Homo sapiens: one gene and its partners. The protein of the gene in region 1 interacts with the protein of each later gene in a biochemical or structural test. Each region holds a gene or a part of one and is shown in the gene's direction. Other genes may lie near its edges. The genes, in order: NGLY1, DERL1, RAD23A and RAD23B.

What was found.
Region 2: the proteins of NGLY1 (region 1) and DERL1 form a complex in vitro, tested with the Homo sapiens proteins (one study listed by BioGRID).
Region 3: the proteins of NGLY1 (region 1) and RAD23A are reported together in a solved structure, tested with the Homo sapiens proteins (one study listed by BioGRID).
Region 4: the proteins of NGLY1 (region 1) and RAD23B are reported together in a solved structure, tested with the Homo sapiens proteins (one study listed by BioGRID).

Annotation. Positions count from the first base shown.
Region 1 is NC_000003.12:25,780,434-25,788,378, reverse strand, and holds the start of NGLY1 (peptide-N(4)-(N-acetyl-beta-glucosaminyl)asparagine amidase), read left to right. Parts: upstream 1-4,935; 5' UTR 4,936-4,988; coding exon 4,989-5,119; intron 5,120-5,506; exon of another isoform or gene 5,507-5,641; intron 5,642-7,945. UniProt on the Homo sapiens protein: Specifically deglycosylates the denatured form of N-linked glycoproteins in the cytoplasm and assists their proteasome-mediated degradation. Cleaves the beta-aspartyl-glucosamine (GlcNAc) of the glycan and the amide side chain of Asn, converting Asn to Asp.
Region 2 is NC_000008.11:123,025,285-123,032,320, reverse strand, and holds part of DERL1 (derlin-1), read left to right. Parts: intron 1-1,564; exon of another isoform or gene 1,565-1,604; coding exon 1,605-1,716; exon of another isoform or gene 1,717-2,091; intron 2,092-6,548; exon of another isoform or gene 6,549-6,598; intron 6,599-7,036. UniProt on the Homo sapiens protein: Functional component of endoplasmic reticulum-associated degradation (ERAD) for misfolded lumenal proteins. Forms homotetramers which encircle a large channel traversing the endoplasmic reticulum (ER) membrane.
Region 3 is NC_000019.10:12,948,861-12,954,177, forward strand, and holds the end of RAD23A (UV excision repair protein RAD23 homolog A), read left to right. Parts: intron 1-220; coding exon 221-299; intron 300-414; coding exon 415-548; intron 549-3,828; coding exon 3,829-3,993; intron 3,994-4,075; coding exon 4,076-4,189; 3' UTR 4,190-4,782; downstream 4,783-5,317. UniProt on the Homo sapiens protein: Multiubiquitin chain receptor involved in modulation of proteasomal degradation. Binds to 'Lys-48'-linked polyubiquitin chains in a length-dependent manner and with a lower affinity to 'Lys-63'-linked polyubiquitin chains.
Region 4 is NC_000009.12:107,328,247-107,332,693, forward strand, and holds the end of RAD23B (UV excision repair protein RAD23 homolog B), read left to right. Parts: intron 1-1,296; coding exon 1,297-1,410; 3' UTR 1,411-3,943; downstream 3,944-4,447. UniProt on the Homo sapiens protein: Multiubiquitin chain receptor involved in modulation of proteasomal degradation. Binds to polyubiquitin chains.

The DNA of each region.
Region 1 (7,945 bases):
TCCTACCCTCCTATTAAGACTTCCTAGGTTTGCCTTAAATTCTTTGTAATCTGATTCAAAACTATCTTTCCAATTATGGCTCCCATTCTCTATTAAATGAGCTTGCCACCCAGCAAACTGATTTTCTCACTATACATGTCTTGATTGACCCTAACTTTTCTCATCTCTGTGCTTTTGCTATTTTCAACAACCACTCATTTTCTTCCTATCAATGCTTGAAGTTTGAATGCAAAAATGAGTAGAGGTATGGCTCTTGCTTTCAAGAAGTTTATGGTCTAGTAAAGGGAGACACCCATAGAAACAAGTAAGTGCAAACTGTTGAAACAGGTGCTATAGTGGAATTATTATAACACAAAAGGGACAATGAGGTCTGTGCTACCTCGTAAAGTCAGAAAAGGCTTCAGAGAAATGATCCTTGAACTGCATCTTGGAAATGAATGTTTGTCTAGTAAATTGGGTGGGAAAGGGCATCCTGGCAGGAGGAGAACAAAGGCCTGGAGAAATGAAGTGTCATGGTATCTTCCACAAACAGCTAAATATGTGGCCCATGTCAAATTTGAAGTGTGGGACAAAGCAACAGTAAACGCATGAGAGTAAGGCAGGGCCCAGATCACAAAAGCCTGGGGTATCATACTGAGGACTTTGGATTTAATCCCGTAGTTCAGAGACCATATGCTAGCCTTCATGGTATAATTTGGAGTGCAACATTCTTTTATTGATTCTAAACTCCTCTAGAAAGGACATGGTAAACTCTCTCATTCCCTTCACTGGAGTCTCTCTTACTCCTCTTTGTCTTGAACAAAGCCACTTAAAATATTTAACTTACCAGCCTGGTTCCTGACACCATTTGACTTTAGAATGTGGATAGAGGGAGCCATAGAAAACTTTTTACCAGGAGAACAACATGATCAGATGGGTGCTTTAGAAAGATCACTATTGCACAAATGAGCAGGGTGGGTTGGAAGGATGTGGAAATGGACACAGGGAAGAAAGTTAAGAATGGATGAAACACGAGGCTCTGAAGGCAATGGCAAGGAGAGATCCAGGAGATGTTGAGAAGGAAACGTTACTAGGATATTGTACATGATTTAAGGAGGGTGGGGAGTCTCTCACAGGTAGCAAGTCCTCTCCTTTCTCACCTTCTCAACCTCTCAATTTAAGGCTTCTGTTCAAGTTGTCCCCCCTCACTGAAACTGCAGCCCACAGTGAAATTTTCCTCCCTCTAAACTAGTAGTTCTCAAAGTTTACTGTTAATCAAAATCACCTGAAGGGCTTGTTACCACACAGATTGCTGGGTCCCACCTTTAAATGTGGAGCTTCAGAATTTGTTTTTCTGACAAGTTTCCTGCTGATGCTGCTGTTGCTTGTCCAACCACTGCTCTAAACTTATGACTTCTATGAAAGTAGGGACCATACTTGTCTCCTTCACAGTGCTGAGCAACTAGTAGTCACTTCATAAATACATGATGAATGAATGAATTATGGAATGAATAAATCAACATTTATCCTTACATTTGATAGTACACATGCACTTTTTGTGCATTTCTCACCAAATGACTTTTGCGAAAACCAATGCCATAGCATTAATATTGTGATAACAATGTACAGTCCATAAAATCATGGAAATCACCATTTTAAAAAAATCATCTGAAATTTAAGTCCTTCCAAATAACTCTTTAGCAACACTTCTGTTAAAGTTCTTGAGTAACTGTAATCTCTTTTGAATATTGCCATTTATAAAGCTATTAAGGGAATCCATTATATAAAGGGACTTGGTCTCTCATTTTCCTGGCTGCTTCCCCCACTTCAGTCAAGTTGGAGATATTCTAATTCTTCCATTTCCTTTAGAAAAGCTGAATAAGCTACCCTAACTTTTATACCCATCGTTGTTTCAAACAACCAAAGAATGGGTACTAAATCAGCATTGAAATTCTTGTTCTTTTATTTATTTATTTTTGTTCCAAAATAAAGATTTTTTTTTTCCCCAGGATTTCACCTTTATTAAAAACATCATTTTTAGAGTTGACATATCATGGCGCTATTCTTTTTTTTTTTTGAGGTAGAGTCCCGCTCTGTCACCCAGGCTGGAGTGCAGTAGGGCAACCTCAGCTCACTGCAACCTCTGCCTCCTGGGTTCAAGCGATTCTCCTGCCTCTCAGCCTCCCAAGTAGCTGGGACTCCAGGTGTGCACTAACACGCCTGGCTAACACTATTCTTTAATAAAACAAAAAAGAAAGAACTCTGTAAATTTTCCCCACGATTGGTTTGGTGATATTAAAAAGTTAACCTCCATAAAAACCATTAGCAAGGGGAGGAGTTGAAGTCTTTCAGGAATTTGTATAGTGATTCACTATTGTGTGACTACATTGAGTGATTAACCAACAACTCTATTCAGTACCTGCTGTGTGCAAAGCAGTCTGAGACAGATGGCACAAGAGACTTTTAATCAAATAGGGAAGACAAAACTAATGATAACTTACAGTGAGATAGCGTTTTAGTTGAGGAAACAAACTATTATGAAGAGAAAAACAAAAGTCATTTTGTTCCCCCACAAAAGTACCCTATGACCATTCTATCTGTCAGGGGAAAGCCTTAGCTGACAGCTTTCTGCCCTTCACTTGACACCTCTGCTTCAATACCAGAGCATTTCCACTTTGGTGTTTTGTATATAGACAATCTTCCTATGTTTTTGTTTTTGTTTTTTTTTTGTAGAGATGGGGTCTTGCCATGTTGCCCAGGCTGGTCTTGAACTCCTGGGCTCAAGCGATCCACCTACCTCGGCCTCCCAAAGTATTGGGATTACAGGCGTGAGCCACCATGTCCAGCCCCTAAAATTTTATTTGAAAAAAAAAAAAAAGTTCTGTTGCATTTTTAAAAGTTACAAGTACTGTATAATATATACTATTCTCATATAATTAGTAAAGGATAAATAAATGTATCAATGGAAAAAGAAACCCAAATTAAGAGGAATAAAGTTTGTGATAGCTATATCTCCAGACCCAAGCCCCCAATCCATTGTGTAGTTGGACGAGACTACATTTCCCAGACTCTCCCCTTTTATCTTTTTATGTGTTTTTAAATTTTTTTTTTATTTTTTGTAAATCTGGCCTTACTGAAATACCCCCTTTTATCTTGATGAGGCCTCATTCTTAGTAATGATATGGTAGAGAAAATGCTGTGTGTCATTTCTGGGCTCATGTGGTTAAAAGTAGGTGTGACTTTTTTTTTTTTTTTTTTTTTTTTGTCCAAGCAGGCTGCCTGGATTTGTAAATAAAATTTCACTAGAACATAACCATGCCCATTTATTTTCAAGTATTGTCTGTGGAGCAACAGCTGCAGAGGCAGAGTTAAATAGTTGAGACAGACCTTATGGCTCACAAAGCCTAAAACACTATGTGGCCCTTTACAGAAAATGTTTCTTGACCCCTGTTCTAAGGTATGGAAGGAGACTGGGTCCACTGACATTATGACACCTGCATTATTAAAGTGTTATATGAGCCAGAAAGAAATTACTCTTGTGTTAAGCCCCTGAAAATTTTAGTTACAGACGGTAGTAACATACTACTATCTGTTGAACACACCATACTTGGAAGGTGGTCCAAAGATTTACATATTTATTAAAAGCGTACGTATATTTGGGAGACGAATAGTCATTGAACTGGATGTCATAGCTTAGGGTCTTGTTCGGAGATTCTGGAAGAAAATTTCAATTCTTAAAAGTAAACAGATGAAACATCAAGAAATTTAAAAGAGGTTATTCAGGCAAATCACTTATCTTAAGAAATAAAGTCAAGAAAAATACTTCGTGAGGTTGAAAAGGAATTTCTGCAAAGAAGGAAGCCACTGGTAAAGTACACTTTCAAGAACATGGTGGGGAAGAGACTGGATTAAAGTAGTAAGGGATGCATCTTCTAAGAGGAATAAAAGACCTTGATCACATGATCTACCTAAAAAACAAGTCACAAAATATTACTTACCCTTACTGTGTGGGATGCAAATTTTTATTCCCTTCCCGCCCCCGACATTCTATAATATTGCGTAATTATTATGCATGTGTTTTACGCTGGTCACCACGCGGTAAACCGAATCCACAACCCATTATTATGTCGCAACCTATGGTTTAAAAATACACTTCCTTACAGAGGAATCATATACTAGTTGAGCTGGAACTTAGATTTTCAGTCATTAGCCAAATTCTGAAAAGAATCCATATAACAAACCCAGCAGAGTTTATAGCCATGGTTTTGTTTTTGACGTTTGTTGCTCCTTCCTTCTGTAGTCTTTCATCCACATCTATGTAGAACGTCCTGACAATCTGCGAAGAGAAGGCTCTAAGGTGGTTTTATTTGTGGGGAAAGGAGGGAGGTACATGCGGTTTCTCCACCTTAATAGCTGGATCAATTAGGCTGGCCCCGGAGCGCAAAGGGATCCGGGTTTCTGAGAGGCACGTGCCAGCACCATTCGCCCGATACCTCTAGACCAAAGCCGGCCTCCCCTCCAGCCGAGCTCCTCCGTCCTAAAGGACTCGACATCCCCCTCCTCCAGGCCCACACCCCTCAGCCCCGGAGCCCAGGCCCCGCCTCTCCCTGCGGAACCCCTTCCCAACCTGTACGACCAGGCCCCAACTCTGGGTCGAAGCACCTCGCCCCTGCCGGCCGAGGCCCCCCACCTTCTTCCGAACAGCCCCTTGCCCCCCGCGAAGGGGCAGCCGTAGCTCCCAGCCGAGCTCCCCCGCTCCTGGCCCCGGTCCCCGACCCCGCCCCAGGCCCCCGACCCCGCCCCTGCCGGCCGAAGACCCCGCCCCTGCCGGCCGAGGACCCCGCCCCTGCCGGCCGAGGACCCCGCCCCTGCCGGCCGAGGACCCCGCCCCTGCCGGCCGAGGACCCCGCCCCTGCCGGTGGCTGCGGTAGCTGCTGCGCGCTGAGGCGCCTGCTCAGTGTGGGACGCGGAGAGCGAGGGGCGGCGGCGGCGCCCGCTGGCGCTCAAGCATGGCGGCGGCGGCATTGGGCAGCTCCTCAGGCTCGGCGTCCCCGGCCGTGGCTGAGCTCTGCCAGAACACCCCGGAGACCTTTTTGGAGGCCTCCAAGCTGCTGCTCACCTATGCTGACAACATCCTCAGGTGCAGGGCAACGGGGTCGGACGGCGGGTACCGGGGTGGGTGGGCCGCGGCACCTTGTTCGGCCAGGGACTGGGGCGTCCGGCCTGAGCTTCAGAGGGCAGCGACGCCCGGACAGACCGGGACCTGGAGCTGGTTCTGCTCCTAACGTCCGAGCCCGCCGGCCAGGGGCCTCGGGACCCGGCCAAGTCCCACCCCCGCTCGAGAAAAGGAAGTTTCTTTGCAGTTGTGACTTGGCACCTGCAGTCAGGGTGCTGCGGGTGAACTGGAGTCCCGGAAGCGGGGCCGGGCGGAGGAGAGGTAGGAAGGCGTGCTTCAGACACTGCCGCTCTTCTCGTCGTTTAACGGCCTCAGATATCGGGACACAACGGTAACCGCACCGCGCGTGTCATTCCCCCTGCGTGCATTTTTCGAGCGGAGTGGCTTACATTTCCACATACTTATCAGAAGTTACTCACTGACAAAGTGATGTTTTCTTCCCATGTTGAGACTATCCGAGTACTAAAGCATAATGCTTCTGAAGTGGTGGGTTTTAAAATTTTTAATTTTTTTTCTGCCCACTTTTGTTGATTGAAACATTATAGTATTTTGAAGTTACAGTTTTTATATTAATACCTGGATTCTACTATGTAACATAACCCTTTAAGAATTCGTGGAGGTAATCGCCTTGGATGAGAGTAATTTCCTTCATTCTCCTGTCAGCAAAATTGCACTTCTAGAGGTCTAAGGGACCTTGCAGATTTTGGGAATTGGGAGGCAAGTTTGATTATTCATTTTGAATAAGTACCCACCTCAACTCTTCAGATCAAATGATCTGAAGGGACATGGTGTGGGGGGGTAGGGAAATGGAACTGAGGTTAAAGGAGAGCCACTTGCTTTAGGGGTGTTACCTCATTTATCAGGTCACCGTGATTAATTAGGTTCTCTGTTCCCCTCAGCCCCTGGTGCATTAAGTGTTTGGTATATTGTCATGAAGTCTAAAAGGAAATTCTCAGTTTCAAGGTTATAGGTTTCACGTGACCCAATTTTAGACATTAGTTACATGTGCAGTTTTTAAAATCCATGTCAGTAATATTTCATTTAGGCAATGGTAATGATTTTTAAAGTAAATTGAAGGGAAAATATATTGAGCCCTTATTTTGTGGCAGATGCTATGAAAGATGCAACATGTGGCCTGTTCACAGCTACATAATTGTGACCTGTGTGGGGACCACCTTCGTGCTCTGTGACACCTTCTCAACTCACCTTTTTTACTCTTTGAGGCCTTACAGCTCTTCACAGTACAAGGATGCCAAGGGACTCCATAAATGAACTGATAGGCTGGGTTCTCCAGAGCCCATTAGCTGAGACTTACCACCTGGAAAGCCACCAGGCTATTTAAAACCCCACTAGTCAGAAAAGAGAGGTGGCCTTGTAATGAAGCCTCACTTCTGCTTTAAATCTAGTGAAACCCAAAATGCTGAGGTTTAGTATGAGGGGGAAACCTTTGCATGCAAATAATGACATTTAGCATCATAATCTTCATTATGAATGTTTACTAATGGCTCGTTGCTGATTTTCGTTTTTGAGACGGAGTTTGCTCTTGTTGATGAGGCTGGAGTGCAGTGGCGCGATCTTGACTCACTGCAACCTCCGCCTCACAGCTTCAAGATTCTGAAAGATGAGGGGTGTGACAATGAGCGCAAAGGATAGTGGACACACTGGAATAATGCTGAGAAATTAAGAGTTTAAGAAAGTCTTTGTGCGTTGCTTTTCCAAGGATAGGAAAGAGGATATGATGGGTTTGAAGTCTAATGTCCCTACAGCCCTCTAAGTCTTTGAGGGCTTTAGGGTCAGGCCTTTGGTATCAGTCTATACACAAAACCACGGTCAGTTTACTCAACATACTTAATAAGAAAAAGAATTTGAGGAACTGGATGTGACTGTCATTGCTGGAGCCTGTTTGCAGTATACTTTTACTGAGAAAAATAGATTAATGTGAGGTCCAGAGATGATATAAAAATAAAATTGCTCACTGGGCACGGTGGCTCACACCTGTAACCCCAGCACTGTGGGAGGCCAAGGTGGGCGGATTGCTTGAGCTTAGGAGTTTGAGACCAGCCTGGGCAACATGGCTAAACCCCGTCTCTACAAAAAAATTAAAAAATTAGCCAAGCGTGGTGGCAGACACCTGTAGTCCCAGCTACTTGGAGGGCAGAGGTGGGAGGATGGCTTGAGCCCATAATCATGCCACTGCATTCTAGCTTTGATGGCGAAGTGAGACCTTTCTCAAAAAAGAAAAAAAAAATGCTCACTAGAAACTAAAGAGGAAAATCTATATTGTATATCAATAGTTAAATGGTAACAACATATATCAAAATAACAAAGGCCAGTCGAAGTGGCTCCAACCTGTAGTACCAGGGCTTTAGGACACCCCAGGTAGAAGGATTGCAGCCGGGGCAACACAGTGAGACCCCATCTCTTAATAAAAAAAAAAAATAGCCAGGCGTGGTGGCTCACCTGTAGTCCTAGCTACTTCAGAGGCTGAGGCAGAGGATTGTTGAGCCCAGGAGTTCTAAGCAGCAATGAGCTTTGATGGCGTCATTGCACTCTAGCCGGGGTGACAGAGCAACACTTTGTTTTTTAAAAAACAAAACAAAAACTATATGAGAACTGATGTGTATTTTATAAGAATTTTTAAACAATTGTGAAAGCAGGAAGAAACTAGAAAATTAGCCCAGAGAAAGACCCAGCATGTAGAGATCTGAAAGCTGTGAGGAAAAGAATAGATTAAAATAGCTCAAGCAGTTTTGAACCAGTAGGATATATCATCCTGGTGGTACTGACATG
Region 2 (7,036 bases), on another chromosome or scaffold:
TCTACAAAAAATATAAAAATTAGCCAGGTGTGGTGGTGCATGCTGGTAGTCCCAGCTACTTGGGAGGCTGAGGTGGGAGAATCACCTGAGTCCAGGAGGTGGAGGTTGTAGTGAGCTAGGATCATGCCACTGCACTCCAGCCTGGGCATCAGAGCAAGATCCTATCTCGGGGGGGAAAAAAAAAATGTAAATCCAGAAAAACAAATGAATAAAGGAAATGCTCAGGTTTTTAAAACGTGAAAAGGTGCTTGACTTCTCATAATGCAAATAAAAATTAGTTTTCAGATTGGTGAATATATAATACATGAAATGGTGAGAGTATGGAGAGAAGACAGGATTCATCTACTTTTTAGGAGGAAGTATAAATTGAGCAAACATTTTTGTAGGCATTTGGCAGTATCTACCAAAATAAATGGTTATGTCTGTTGCTCTAGCAGATTTATTGACAGGAACTTATTCTGTATATGCACATATAAAGAGGATATACAAGAATATTCATTGTGGCATTGTAACAGTTTAAACAAAAGTTTAGACATTCACATACAAGGAATACTATGAAGCCAATTAAAATATTTTGTAGGGAATGAACCAAGGTATAAAACAGTGCCGTATAGAGTAGGATAAAGAAGAATGAGTAATAGTAACATGTATTTCTTAGAGGAAATACAAGACACTGATCAGCTGTTGTTGGGGAACTGGGAGACTGGAGGTTGGGAATGAGGCTTACTTGTTACTTTATTATTTAATTTATTTTAATTAAATTAAATTTAATTTTTTGAGACGGAGTTTCGCTCGTCACCCAGGCTGGAGTGTAGTGGCGCGATCTTGGCTTACTGCAACCTCCGCCTCCTGGGTTCAAGCGATTCTCCTGCCTCAGCCTCCCGAGTAGCTGAGATTACAGGCCCCCGCCACCTCACCTGGCTAATTTTTGTAATTTTATTGGAGACAGGGTTTCACCATGTTGGCCTGGCTGGTCTTGAACTTTTGACCTCAGGTGATCTGCCTGCCTCAGCTTCCTAAAGTGCTGGGATTACAGGCATGAGCCACCGAACCTGGCCTGCTTGTTACTTTAGACCCTTCTTATGTTTTGTTTGTTTTTTCAGGGAAATGTTTTTAAAGAAAAAGTGCCCCTATTGCCTATTTAGTGCATTGGTTTGAATAAAAAATTGTTGTTTTACTTCTGCCTTTGAATGTGGCATTTTTGGACAAGGTTTGTCATTCCAGAATATTCTTTCCCTAAATAGAGGCATTACTGTACTGTTGGAAATTAAGCCTTTGTAATTCATTTTTTGATGTAGGCTTAATTGTATGCCTGATCTCAGCAAAGACTAACCATATACTCATATAGTATTGATTTTGTTTCAACTTGTTTAGAAATATTTGTTGCTTATTTTATGATGTCGTTTTATTCCATTGATTTGCAAAGTGATGTGATTGTATTTGGTGTGAACACTTTTCTTCAGTTGTTTTCTTGAGTTGTGTTGGTAGGATCACTTTCACACCTCTCATTGAGGAGGATGCTTTGTTAATTTTGTTTAGTTAGAAGGGAAAGAAATAACCAGGCTTACAGAAACTAACAGCTGTGTTTATTTTGATCTGGACAGATTTGGAGGCCAATCACTGCCACCTTTTATTTCCCTGTGGGTCCAGGAACTGGATTTCTTTATTTGGTCAATTTATATTTCTTATATCAGTATTCTACGCGACTTGAAACAGGTATGTTACCCATAGTTGTTTTAAGCATTGTTTCTTTCTCATTTACTAATCCATGTGTTTACTTTGGAGGAATTTGGAGGGCAGTTAGCATTACAAAAAGAAACTGCATAAAGATAGTAAATGCTTAGTGACTGTGCCAGGACTGCACCAGGCACTTAGCTTACTCAATTTTTAATCCTCACAACATCCTGAGGTATAAGTAGCAGTGTTACCATTTTATAGATGCAAAAAGTAGCAGATCAGAGGTTGACATGGCTTGTCCATCTCCTTAGTGGCTGAGCTGTGTGCCTTTCATTTATTTTGAGGGTCTCACTCATTTCTTTTGCAGCAGTCCTTGTCCTTCAGTGCAGAATTGGGCTGGAGTATATATGTCTCCTAGATTGGGGTTGAAAAACATCAATTTATGTAATTAAAAGCCTAGATTTATTCTCTAATTGAAAAACTCAACTCTAAAATACAGTATATAGCCAAGATTTAATAATATATGGTAGTTTATCAGGTATGAGTACCAATGTAATATTTTATTTTATTTATTTATTTATTTTTTGAGACAATCTTGCTCCGTTGCCCAGGCTGGAGTGCAGTGGTGCCATCTCAGTTCACTGTAGCCTCTGCCTCTCGGGTTCAAGCAATTCTCATGCCTCAGCCTCCTGAGTAGCTGAGATTACAGACACCTGCCACCATACCCGGCTAATTTTTATATTTTTAGTAGAGATGGGGTTTTACCCTGTTGGCCAGGCTGGTCTCAAACTCCTGACCTCAAGTGATCTGTCTGCCTCAGCCTCCCAAAGTGCTGGGATTACAGGTGTGAGTCAACGTGCCCAGCCAACCTATGTAATATTATGGATAAGTTCGAAAAATCTTTTCGTAAAAGTGTCTTACTGAATTGTCATTTATTTCCTACAATACCTTATATGCTGTCTGAGTCACTTATACTAAAGAAACAATACATCAATACACTGTGTTACAATATGGATATAATTTTGTTAAATTTAAATGACTTTGAAAAGGCTGACTGACTTCAGAGACTTTATAAACTTGCTGGCTGTTACCTCAGGATAGAGAACTCTGAACTACCCTTAAGTGTATGTAAGTCAGTGCTCATATGGTTGAGAATTGCGAATCAGTCTCATCACTGCAGGGAAATAGTAGGATGGGTATTTGATGTCAAGTAACATTTTTCCTTAAATTGGCATTTGCTTTTAGGTTCTTTTTAAAAAGAAAGAAATTGTATTAATACAAAGTGTAAGGTCATAGACTATTATATTACTATTGGGAGGAACCTAGTTTATTTCCTGAGTTTTACCAAAAGATGAATAGGAGATTCAAGGAAGTAAAGTAACTTGGCAGAAATGAAACTGACAACTAGGCCTCTCACCACCATATTAGGGGTTTGATCTTTAAATCTACCAGAATATGTGATTTTTATTCTCCTTTGTTCCAGTTGGACCCATAATGATACTGAGTGCTTAGCAGTCTGCCTTTCTGGTATAACTTAATTGAGCATTAATTTGTTAGAGTAATTTTTTTTTTTTTTGAGACAGGGTCTTGCTCTGTCACCCAGACTGGAGTATAGTGGCACAGTCATGGCTCCCTGCAGCCTTGACTGCCGGGGTTCAAGTGATCTTCCCACCTTAGCCTCCCTAGTAGCTACAAGGATGGGTGTTAAACCGCCACACCTGGCTGACTTTTGTATTTTTTGTAGAGATGGGGTTTCACCATGTTGCCCAGCCTGGTCTTGAACTCCTGGGCTCAAGAGATTTGCCCACCTTGACCTCCCAAAGTGCTGGGATTACAGGCGTGAGCCACTGTGCCCAGCTGGAGTAATTATTTTATATTGATAGTAAACGTTATATCAATAGTAAAATAGATTAAGTGTGGATCATTTATGATCAGTTATTTAAAATTTTATTCTGGAAAATTTTCAAACATATGCAAAAGTGGAGGGAAAAGTCAATGAACCTTTTTTCTTTTTACTGAGACCAAATTCACATAACATAAAATTCATCATTTTAACCATTTTAAGGTGTACAATTCAGTGGTCTTTAGTATATTCACAATGTTATGCAGCCATCACCACAATCTAATTCCAGAACAGTTTCATCATTCCCTAAAAAAGCCAAAGCAGTCACTCTTTACCTCCCACTTTCCCTCCTCCCAGCCTTTGGCAACCACTAATCTACTTTCCGTGTATATGGATTTACCTATTCAGGACATTTCATATGTCCTTTGGTGACTGGCTTCTTTCACTTTGCACAATGTTTTTAAGGTTCATTCCTGTCATAGTGTGTGTCAGTACGAACCCCTCCTTAACCATCTAATGGTTATCACCTCTAATAGTTATCTCATAGCCAATCTTGTTTTATTTATATCTATTGCTGTCCTCCACCCCTGATTATTTGAAGCAAAATGCCAGGCATTTCATTTGTAAATATTTCAGAATTTAACTCTGAACTATAAGGACTTAAAACATAATTCTAATGCTATTATTAAACCTAAATTGCAATAATTCCATGGCCACTTTTTTTTTTTTTTTTTTTTGAGATACAGTTTCACTCTGTCACCCAGTCGGGGGAGTGCAGTAGCGTGATCTCAGCTCACTGCAACCTCTGCCTCCTGGGTTCAAGTGATTCTTGTGCCTCAGGCTCCCGAGTAGCTGGGATTACAGGTGCATGCCACCACATCTGGCTAATTTTTGTGTTTTTGGTAGAGATGGCATTTCGCCATGTTGGCCAGGCTGGTCTCAAACTCCTGACCTTAGGTAATCCACCTGCCTCAGCCTCCCAAAGTGCTGGGATTACAGGCGTGAGCCACTGCACCTGGCCAATGGCCACTTTTATTTTTAATTGCCTTCTTGTGCTTTGAATCCCTTTACCCAACCCTATTACCTGGTCAGGTAATACAACAAATTGTAATGTTATTCTCTCTGAATACCAATTTAGGACAAATTTGTGGGATTATTAGGTCACTGGTCTCTTTTATTTGCTTTGATTTTTATAAGTTGCCTCCTCATTCCCTACTCAACAACTACAGAGCATTTTGAAAGGCTTGAGCTGAGAGGCATTTTTTAACAGCTTTATTGAGATGTAATTCATGTACGGTACAACGTACCCATTTAAAGTATACACAATTCATTGGTTTTTAGTATATTGACAGAGTTGTACAGTCATTATCACACCCATTTTTATAATATTTCACCACCCCCAAAAGAAACCCTACCATTAGCAGCCATTCTCCCTTTTCATTCAATCCCTTCCTCCCCCACACCCTTAGGAGACCACTAAATTTTTTTTTTTTTTTTTTTTTTTTTTGAGACAGGGTCTCACTCTGTCGCCCAGGCTGGAGTGCAGTGGCACTGTCTTGGCTCTTTGCAACCTCTGCATCTCGAGTTCAAGCAATTCTCATGCCTCAGCCTCCTGAGTAGCTGGGACTACAGGCACGCACCACCACATCTGGCTAATTTTTGTATTTTTAGTAGACAGGTTTTCACCATGTTGGTCAGGCTGGTCTCAAACTCCTGACCTCAAGTGATTCGCCCACCTCAGCCTCCCAAAGTGCTGGTACTACAGGCGTGAGCCACTGTACCTGACCAAAACCACTGATCTTATTGACTCTTTAGATTTGCGTGTTCTGGGCATTTCTTAAAATCATACAGTATCTTGTTGCCTTTTGTGACTTATGTCTTTTACGTAGCATAATGTTTTCAAGATTCTTCCATATAGCCTGTATCAGTACTTCATTCCATTTTATTACCATTAAGATTCCATCGTATGGATATACCTCATTTTGTTTATTCAGTCATCAGTTGATAGACATTTGACTTGGTTTCATTTTTTGGCCATTGTGAATAATAGCTGCTATGAACGTGTAGAGAGGAACTTTTGAGATCATTCTATTTAACACTCTTATTTCATAGATAAGAAAACAGTGATCTAGAGTGGTGGTGACGTGTCCCAAAAGTTGCAGAGCTCTTTGAGTTAACGCAGTTAGGACTGGAACCCAGGTTCACTGATCCCCAGTTTTCTGTCAACCACACAGCTTTAAGTTAACATCTTGACAAAATGTTTGCCACCTGCACATTTTCCTGCCTGGCTAAATTGTTAGTTATATAGCAGAGTTGGCTTATTTGAGGTTTCTGATTTGAACTGGAAGACTGTAATTTGAAACCAGTTAATTTGTAAATTCTCAGTTGCAAGCATGTCAGATAATATAGTGCTGTAATTTATATGATTACAATATTTTAAGTACTCAGTCTAAAGACTCCTTAGGAATCAGACAGCCAAAGCCACATCAAAAGAAGCACAGCTATTATTAAAATCGGGAAATTGTGTTAGAATTTCAGCTGTGATTCATCATTGTGATCCTCTAGCATTAGGCCTGCTTAACACTGTGGCTGAAGTGTGCTTTGAGGTATCAAGGGAGAAATAAAGGAGAGTAGAAGACACTTTTGCTGGAAACCTATTTTCTTTTAATTATATCTTTTTGCCTTACTGACACTTGTTGGGTTTCTTTTTTTAAATTGACTAGCTGTATCATGTAACTGTGAGGGGGTGTGGAACGGGGAGGGAAAGTAACTTTCAAGCTAGAGTGATCTTACAGTCATTTCTGTTTCTTTTTTTTTTTTTCTTCTGTTAAAGTCTTCTAACTGAAGGCATTAGGAATTATGCTTACACGGGAGGCCGTTGTTGATTATTCTGCCCAATAAGGCATATGGCGCAGTGACAGGAGCACTGTGCTAGTAATTTGATGTCACTCTGGTTCTAACAAGCTCTGTGACTTTGGTCATGTGACTTTAACTCTGCATCTGTAAGAAGCAGGTCGTAGGTCTTTCCATTCTCCCTTCCAGATGCAGTATGAGGACTGAGTCAGAGGCTATGGAAAGGTTTGGCTGACGCTTTATTCCCTCCTTCCCCCACATTGTTTTCCCTTGGTAGAATGTACGTCTCTGGAAGACAGAGACTTTCTTTTTCAGTATCTAAGGCCAGTGTGGTACAGGTGGTTGTGTGTGTGTATGTGTGTTTCTAATAATAATGGTAAGTACCTCCCAGCATAGCCATGCTGGAGGAGACACAATGGAGACAAAACAGGCATGGTTCCTCCTCTGACAGAACTTAACGGTCTAGTGGAGGAGGACAGGGATCAAGCATGTAATCCAGAATGCGGCCATCAGGTCATGGCGAGAGCCAAGAAGGAAAGGCTGACAGGCTGGGAGGGAGCTTGGGGGGCCTCACTGGTCTTTGGGATACAGGGCTCAGAAGCTGTGGAATTGACTGTACTTTCTCTGGGTCTGTTTTAGCCTGTGGTAGTCAGAGCATGTCAC
Region 3 (5,317 bases), on another chromosome or scaffold:
GGCGTCACTGCCCTGATGGGCGGTTGGGAAGGCAAAACCTGCCCTGAAAAGCCTTTGGGTAGTGATTCTAGCCACTAAAGGCTTCCCACAGGAGGCTGGATGTGAGTGATGGGTGGGCCTCTGGAGGGCAGGGCCGAGGCCTCATCTGTGTCCTGCCAGGGCATGGAGGAGGGTGGCAGCAGGAGGTCTGTGCATTAGAACTAAACAGGACCCCTGACAGGGAATTCCTGGGAGCCCCGAGCCGGAACACGGTTCTGTCCAGGAGAGCCAGGTATCGGAGCAGCCGGCCACGGAAGCAGGTGGGTGTGCACATGCCGCATCTGCCCTCCAGGTACCTGACTCACATTACACTCCACCCCGCAGTGCTCCTAGGAGCCCGGCGTGGTGTCTGACTGCACCCCTTCCTACTACCAGCAGGAGAGAACCCCCTGGAGTTCCTGCGGGACCAGCCCCAGTTCCAGAACATGCGGCAGGTGATTCAGCAGAACCCTGCGCTGCTGCCCGCCCTGCTCCAGCAGCTGGGCCAGGAGAACCCTCAGCTTTTACAGGTGTGGTCCCAAGGGCAGAGGGAGCTAGGGCAGCCACCATTTCCCTTCCCTGTGGGCACCAGAGTCCATAACACGTAGGAATCGTTCTAGGTCCGGAAAGCAGGACTAAGCACATGCTTCCCCCACGCCCCTGTGCTTCCTGTGACCTGGTGACCCCCCTGGTTTCTCAGTCTTCCCAACCACCTTGTAAGGTGTGGGTGCTGTCAACATCACCTCCCACAGAAGAAGACACCGGAAACTTAGAGCAGCCTGTCATTCCCAGGGTCACGCAGCTGGTAGTGTGTGTGTCTGCCTCCTGCCTCGGGGTGGGGTCCTGGGCTGGGGCTCTGGCTTCACATACAGATGGTGCTGCGTAAATGTCTGTAAGGTGGCATGACGTCACCCAGGACAGCTGTGCCCCAGTTGGCTCTGGGACAACTCTGCTCAGTGAGGCTCCATCTTGCCCTTGAAGGTTCACAGGAAGAGTGGGGGAGTGGCCCCCTGGGTGCAAGTAGGTTCCTCTGGGTTCTCGGTGAAGTGCCTACCGGTCTTGGCTCAGGACCCTGCTGTCTGACCCTTCTCCTCTCACTTCTCAGTCCCTTGCCAGCTCCTCCTGGTCGGTCGTGTTCTTCATCTGCACTCAGCCCTCCCTCATAGTGTCCTGGGGCCTTCAGTCTGTATGGGAACCCCCAAATCTATGTAGCCAGCCCAGGCCTCTCTGAATGCCACACTCCATGGCTGGCTTAATTAACTCTCCATCAAAGTGCTCCCTAGACTAGACGTCTAAGACTTAGAACAGACCTCCCCAGTCCTCCCCGATCTCTGCAAGGATTAGCTTGGGGTTGCTTCAGCCCCAGGCCCTGGGGATCTGCTGGGGTCTACCCCTTGTCCTGTCTGCTCTTCCCACTCAGCCCCTCCCTGCACTCCAGCTCTCTGGTAGCCTCTTCCTGGGCCTCTGCCACTGCATAGTCCCACAGTCCACTTTTCAACCATGAGGCAGATGACTAAAAAGCACTTTCTTTTCTTTTTTTTTTTGAGAGGAAATCTCGCTCTGTCGCCCAGGCTGGAGTGCAATGGCGCAATCCCGGCTCACTGCAACCTCCGCCTCCCGGGTTCAAGCGATTCTTTTGCCCCCGCCCGAGTAGCTGGGACTACAGGCGCCCGCCACCACGCCTGACTAATTTTTTGTATTTTTAGTAGAGATGGGATTTCACCCTGTTAGCCAGGATGGTCTCAATCTCCTGACCTAATGATCTGCCCGCCTTGGCCTCCCAAAGTGCTGCAATTACAGGCATGAGCCATCACACCTGGCTGACTGAAAAGCACTTTCTTCTTTAATGTGAAAATGATCAGATGCATACAATGGTAGAGTTATATCAGAGCTTCCAGATACCCAGGTAGGGCACAGTGGCTCATGCCTGTAATCCCAGCACTTTGGGAGGCTAAGGCAGGCAGACCACTTGGTCAGGAGTTTTAGACCAGCCTGGCCAACATGGCAAAAACTCGTCTCTACTATAAATACAAAAAGTAGCTGAGCATGGCGGCAGGCCACTGTAGTCCCAGCTACTCAGGAGGTGGAGGCAGGAGAATCGCTTGAACCCAGGAGGCAGAAATTACAGTGAACCGAGATTGCCCCACTGCACTCCAGCCTGGGTGACAGAGTGAGAGTGTCTCAAAAAGAACAGAAACAAAAATGAACAAATGAACTTCCAGATACCTAAATCCAACACCCAGATGAGTTCACTTTTTTTGGTTTGGGGGCTGGTAGGTGGGAATAGAGACAGGGTCTATGTTGCCCAGGCTGGTTTTGAACTCTTGGGCCCAAGCAGTCCCTCCTGCCTTGCCTCCCAAATTGTTGAGGTTACAGGCGTGAGCCACCACACCCGGCCAAGTTCACCTTTCTAAAAGATCCACAGACCACGTCTTTTCCCATGTAACTGTCACCACCGTGGCTTCCCCCTGCTCTAGAAAATGGGTCTGACTTGGGCCTTCCTCTCTGGTGTCATTGTCTGCCTCCTCCCCCTTCCCTTGTTCGCTGTTTTTTGTTTTTTTTGTTGTTGTTGTTTGTTTGTTTTTGAGATGGAGTTTCGCTCTTGTTGCCCAGGCTGGAGTGCAGTGGCGTGATCTCAGCTCACCGTAACCTCCGCCTCCTGGGTTCAAGAGATTCTCCTGCCTCAGCCCCCAGAGTAGCTGGGATTACAGGCATGTGCCACCACGCCCTGCTAATTTTATATTTTTAGTAGAGATGGGATTTCTCCATGTTGGTCAGGCTGCTCTCAAACTCCTGACCTCAAGTGATCTGCCTGCCTCAGCCTCCCAAAGTACTGGGATTGCAGGCATGAGGCACCGTGCCCAGCCCCATTCACTCTGTTCCTGCTTCTGTTTCTGAGACTTCCCAGATGCATCCACCCTGGGCCTTTGCACTTGCTGTTTGCTTTACCTGGAGGAAACCCTCTGCATCCGCCATACTGCAGGCCTCTCCACCAGCCCTCATCTGCAGTTCCTTCCTAGCCAGACACTTGCAGTTGTCTGGTTCATTTATTGGCTCACTCACTTATTTTTTGAGAGTCTCTTGCCCAGGCTGGAGTGCAGTGGCACAGTCTCGGCTCCCTGCAACCTCTGCCTCCTGTGTTCAAGTGATTCTCCTACCTTAGCCTTCTTGAGTAGATGGGATTACAGGCACGTGCCATCACACCCAGCTAATTTTTGTATTTTAGTAGAGACGGAGTTTCACCATATTGGCCAGGCTGGTCTCGAACTCCAGGCTGGTCTAGAATCACCTGAAGTGATTATAGGTGTGAACCACTGCAGCCAGCCTATTTATGTATTTATTTATTCAAGACAGGGTCTTGCTCTGTTGCCCAGGCTGGAGTTCAGTGGCTTACTGCAGCCTCCGCCTCCTGGGTTCAGTCTTATGCCTCAGCCTGCCAAGTAGCTGGGATTACAGGCGTCTGCCACCACACCTGGCTACTTTTTGTATTCTTAGTAGAGATGGGGGTTCACCATGTTGGCCAGGCTGGACTCGAACTCCTGACCTCAAGTGATCCACCTGCCTCTGCCTCCCAAAGTGCTGGGATTACAGGTGTGAGCCACCGTGCCCGGCTTATTTCTTGGCTCACTTAAAAGCACATCATCAGCTCTTCCAGGGTAGGGCTTGTGTCGACTGCTATGTTGTGTTTGGCCAGAACAGGCTCCTCTGGATATTTGCCTGACTGAATGAAAAAGCAAGGGCTGTGATGACCTGGGGAGAGGAGGGGACCAGGGCTGTGAATTACCTTCCCTTCCCCACCCTCTCCTGCAGCAAATCAGCCGGCACCAGGAGCAGTTCATCCAGATGCTGAACGAGCCCCCTGGGGAGCTGGCGGACATCTCAGATGTGGAGGGGGAGGTGGGCGCCATAGGAGAGGAGGCCCCGCAGATGAACTACATCCAGGTGACGCCGCAGGAGAAAGAAGCTATAGAGAGGGTAAGAGGCCTGGCTGAGGGGTGACTGCAGGTGGGCAGGACCCCTACCCTCTCCTGCTCACACTTAACCTATCTTCCCACAGTTGAAGGCCCTGGGCTTCCCAGAGAGCCTGGTCATCCAGGCCTATTTCGCGTGTGAAAAAAATGAGAACTTGGCTGCCAACTTCCTCCTGAGTCAGAACTTTGATGACGAGTGATGCCAGGAAGCCAGGCCACCGAAGCCCCCACCCTACCCTTATTCCATGAAAGTTTTATAAAAGAAAAAATATATATATATTCATGTTTATTTAAGAAATGGAAAAAAAAATCAAAAATCTTAAAAAAACAAGCAAACAGTCCAGCTTCCTGTCCTCCTAAAGTGGCCCCTGTTCCCATCTCCCGGGCCAGACAGCTGTCCCCCCGTCCTCCTCCCCAGCCCAGCCTGCTCAGAGAAGCTGGCAGGACTGGGAGGCGACAGATGGGCCCCTCTTGGCCTCTGTCCCAGCTCTCTGCAGCCAGACGGAAAGGCGGCTGCTTGCCTCTCCATCCTCCGAAAAACCCCTGAGGACCCCCCCCCATCCTCTTCTAGGATGAGGGGAAGCTGGAGCCCCAACTTTGATCCTCCATTGGAGTGGCCCAAATCTTTCCATCTAGGGCAAGTCCTGAAAGGCCCAAGGCCCCCTCCCCAGTCTGGCCTTGGCCTCCAGCCTGGAGAAGGGCTAACATCAGCTCATTGTCAAGGCCACCCCCACCCCAGAACAGAACCGTGTCTCTGATAAAGGTTTTGAAGTGAATAAAGTTTTAAAAACTAGCCCTATGGTCTGTGCCTGCTGGGGCTCCCCGCGCCCACCTGTCTGGGTCTTGGGGGGCTGGCTGGGCACAGGCAGGCATGGTGACGGGTGCCTGGAAGGGGGAGAGGAGTCTGTGAGTCCCTGCAGATTGAGGCTTCCGGTGTCTCCTCCCCCAGTGTGTCATTTCCAGGCAGTGGACCCCAGCCCAACGTTACAAGGACTGCTTCTCCCCGGCCCCCACCATCATCACCACAGTCTGTTTTGGCTATACTTCCCCCCCCACCAGCCTTGTAATTGGCTAATTACTGGAGATGAATGTTGGTAAACAGAAGCCTTCTTCTCTTCTGCCATCTGCTTCTCCATTATTTGCCCATTGTACACCCCCCTTTTCCTCCCACTGAAGCCCCAGTTAGTCAGCAGGGCCTAGAGTCCCTGTCCCCTTTTGAGTACAGCCAAGTGGGGGATTCCCCAGCTCTTAAGTATTGGGGGAGGAACCAGGGGACCCAGAGAGGCACACCTTGAGAGGACGCAGATCTCTTCAGGGGTACTGCCAGG
Region 4 (4,447 bases), on another chromosome or scaffold:
GTTATTTCCAAATATAATCTGACACAGCAGTCTTTAACCTTTTTGGCACCAGGGACCAGTTACGTAGAAGACCTTTTTTTCTACCAACATAGGTGGGGTGGGCGCAGTGATTTTGGGATGAAACTGTTCCACCTCCGATCATCAGGCGTTAGTTAGGTTAGGAAGTGGGGTGGGGCGGTGGTTTTGGGATGAAACTGTTTCATCTCACATCATCAGGCATTTGTTAGGCTATCATACGGAGCACAGACCCTAGATCCCTCTCATGCACAGTTCACAGTAGGGTTCATGCTCATATGAGAATCTAATGCCGCCACTGATACAACAGGAGACGGAGCTCAGGTGGTAATTCGAGTGATGGGGAGTGGCTGTAAATACAGATGAAGCTTCACTTGTTCGCCCACTGCTCACCTCCTCCCGTGCGGCCCAGTTCCTTGCTCACCCACTGCTCACCTGCTCCTGGGCAGCCCAGTTCCTAACAGGCCAATGGCTGGTGCCAGTTCACGGTCTTGGGGTTTGGGACCTGTGATCTAACTCAAGGTGATTGAGACAATTGAGGAGGGTGACATTTGGCTGAGTTTTTAAAGGCTTTTAAAAGGAGTGAGTATTGTCACAAGTGATTTTTAATATAATAGACTAGGAAAATGAAATTAAGTAGCTGGTATTACCATTTAAAATGCTGTAACTGTTAAGCAGATAAAAATAGAACATTATCTTCAAAATGTACCATGTATTACTAATAATTGGTCACCTGTTTTTCTAGTATGGAGTGTTGAATAAAGCAAGGAGATTGAGAGTGATGTTTGATCCAAATGAAAGACATGAGTTGACATTAATAAATAAAACATAATTTGCTTTTAATTTAGAAATAGGTGAGGTGGTTAAACTATACTGCAGGTACTCTCATCCTTATCTTCACTCTTAATATACTAAAAGCCATTTGATTTACATATTTCTGTAGAGTCATTTATTTTTAAACCATAGCAGTTAGCAGCTAATTTTTAATTAGGCCAAAGAGTATTTGCATAGTATCTATTAAGCTTTAACTAGAAACAAAGACTTTTTTAGGTGATTAGTAAAGGAAAGGGTCTAGATTCCATCTAATCCCTTGGGTTGGGCAGTAAATCCATATTGATAGAGATGAATTCATGTAAAATTCTCAAGAGCTTTTTTGGGTTGCAGTATGTTTTTGAGTAATGATTTATCTTTAGTGCTATGCTGGAATCTATAATATGTAAATAAAATTAAATGTGCCATAATTGGTGTGTTGGATTTATATTTTTTTCCTTTTTCTTCCAGTTAAAGGCATTAGGATTTCCTGAAGGACTTGTGATACAAGCGTATTTTGCTTGTGAGAAGAATGAGAATTTGGCTGCCAATTTTCTTCTACAGCAGAACTTTGATGAAGATTGAAAGGGACTTTTTTATATCTCACACTTCACACCAGTGCATTACACTAACTTGTTCACTGGATTGTCTGGGATGACTTGGGCTCATATCCACAATACTTGGTATAAGGTAGTAGATTGTTGGGGGTGGGGAGGGAGGGATCTAGGATACAGGGCAGGGATAAATACAGTGCATGTCTGCTTCAATTAGCAGATGCCGCAACTCCACACAGTGTGTAAAATATATACAACCAAAAATCAGCTTTTGCAGGTCTTTATTTCTTCTGTAAAACAGTAGGTAACTTTTCCTAGGTTTCACTCTTTTTAGTGTACTAGATCCAGAAACTTAGTGTAATGCCCTGCTTTATATTTCTTTGACTTAACATTGGTTTCAGAAAGAATCTTAGCTACCTAGAATTTACAGTCTCTGTTTCATGGCAACACTGGATAATGGCTTTGTGAAATTTAAAAAATTTTTGTAGCGACTGTAAACAGAAATGCCAAATTGATGGTTAATTGTTGCTGCTTCAAAAATAAGTATAAAATTAATATGTAAGGAAGCCCATTCTTTCATGTTAAATACTTGGGGTGGGAGGGGAGAAAGGGAACCTTTTCTTAAAATGAAAATAATTACTGCTATTTTAAAATTTCTTGATCATTGAATGTGAGACCCTTCTAACATGATTTGAGAAGCTGTACAAGTATAGGCAGAGTTATTTTCCTGTTTACATTTTTTTTTTGTTTTGGGGAAAAAATTGGTAGGTGTCTAATTACTGTTTACTTCATTGTTATATTGCAGTAAAAGTTTTAAAACAACCATTGCATGTTTGCTTTTGATGTATCCCTTTGTGAAATTAGCACTTTTGGGGCCAATGGAGAAATGCAGCATTCACTCTCCCTGTCTTTTCCCCTTCCCTCAGCAGAAACGTGTTTATCAGCAAGTCGTGAGTCAAACTGCTGCCTTTTAAAAAACCCACAAAATGCTGATTCAGTTCAAAATTAATGCAAATGTTTCAAAACTGGGTTTCTGATATTTGTAAATGTGTTTCTTTATTAGATAAGAGTGTATTACCATTAAAGTCATTAGTATAATATTGCTTTCAAAAAGAAATGGTAGACAAAACTATAATCCAGCATCTTTTATTGCATTGGAAAGACTGGCAAAGTCTTTTGGATGGGTTGGGAGATGTGGCTGGAAAGTACTTTGGAAAATATACAATCAAGATATCTCATGGCATATTAAAAGAAAAATCTTAATAGCAGTGTTGGCTTTTATTTGGATTTTTTCATCTCAGTTTTTTCTGTGGAATCTCCTTCATTGGCATTGTTATTTAATCATAAACGGGGCAGATGTCTACTTGTTCAGTTTTTCAAATCTGTTTTCCTGAGTATAAATAAGAGTATTTAAAGAAATAATTTGGATTGCTTTTGTTTTTTGTTTCCTTTTTTTTAACCATCTGATACTAAGAAGATGAATTTGCACAGATTTCTCTGCATAATTTCTCAATATCTTTAGCACAGTATGGTGATGATGACTTTTAAGCATTTACATCACGTACTCATAACCTATTATGAAAATAAATGAAACTGGCTGGGTATGGTGGCTCATGCCTATAATCCCAGCACTTTGGGAGGCCGAGGTGGGCAGATCACTTGAGGCCAGGAGATTGAGACCAGCCTGACCGTCATGGCGAAACCCCGTCTATACTAAAAATACAAAAAATAGCCAGGCATGGTGGCGCACGCCTGTGGTCCCAGCTACTTGGGAGGCTGAGGCATGAGAATTGCTTGAACCCGGGAAGTGAAGGTTGCCGTGAGCTGAGATCACACCACTGCCATAAACATGACAGGCTTTTGGACTTTGTATTACCTGTATGTTTTATAATGGATCATGCATAATTTCTCAGGAGAATAAAATGAGAATTCATATATACGTTCATCTTTCAAGTCAGAGCAATGAGTTGGGAAAAGAGGTGGCATTTCTGATCGGATAATGGAATACTCTCATTTATTTTATGACATTCTCTGTCTACTCAGATCATAGTGAAAACTGGAAACAAAAAAAAAAAACAGCCTCTTCTTGGAAAGTGACAGCAGAAGGTGGCATGGAGCTTGTGTCCTTGGACAACAAATCTGGATATACTAGGATTAATTATCAGAAGACAGCTCAGGCCAAGTTTTGATCGTTCCATACAGTACCTTGTTTATCTGCTTCTTAAAGAATCAGCCGAGACACCATAAAAGAAATAGGCTTTTTGTGCCTTTTGCTGTTAATGTTTAATTTACAAACTGTTTTGGTAAATCTCTTAATGTAAGTAGCTATTTGACTTTGGAATTTTGCATTCGAGGTATACTGTCATTTCTTGAAATCTTTTTCTCGTTTAGTTGCTCTGTGGGAAATGTGAGGAAGCCTAAGTTTGTATTTGTAAATTTCTTATGCCATCCTCTAGTCAAATTTTTTTTCATTGTTTAAAAATACGGAAGTGTTCCAATATAATTTTTTCCTGTACTGGATGGCTAGGATTCTAGAGAATTGATTATAAAATATTTTCAATACATCCAACATTGCACTTCTCATTTTTTAAATGATTCTGTCACGTAGAATCAGAATTGAAAGTTGACAATGCTTCTGTCACTGATACTTCTTTTTACTTCAGTAATTGGTGAGTGTATCATATAGGAGGCCCAGGCACTAGATTGACTTTATTGGGTCTCCTGGTTCTTTTCTCAACACAGAGATGGGATACTTGCTGGGATGTTAAGGTTAGTGAGGTCTTCTAGGGAATGCATAAAATTTCCATTGTTCCATACTTGTCTGAAGCAGCCAGCCAAAGCCTGCTGCAAAATGTTCTACCGAAAGTAAGCAATTGGAGGGAATGAGTGTTCCTGACCCAGTCAGTTCTGGTGGATTCTCCAGCCATGAAGTTCAGTTGGCCTCCCCCATCCATTTTCCCCATTTTTTCCCCCTAAGCCAAGGGCTGGCAAACTACAGCTTCATGAGCCAAATCTGGCATATACCTGTTATGTGGTCCATGAACTAAGAGTGATCTTTACATTTTTAA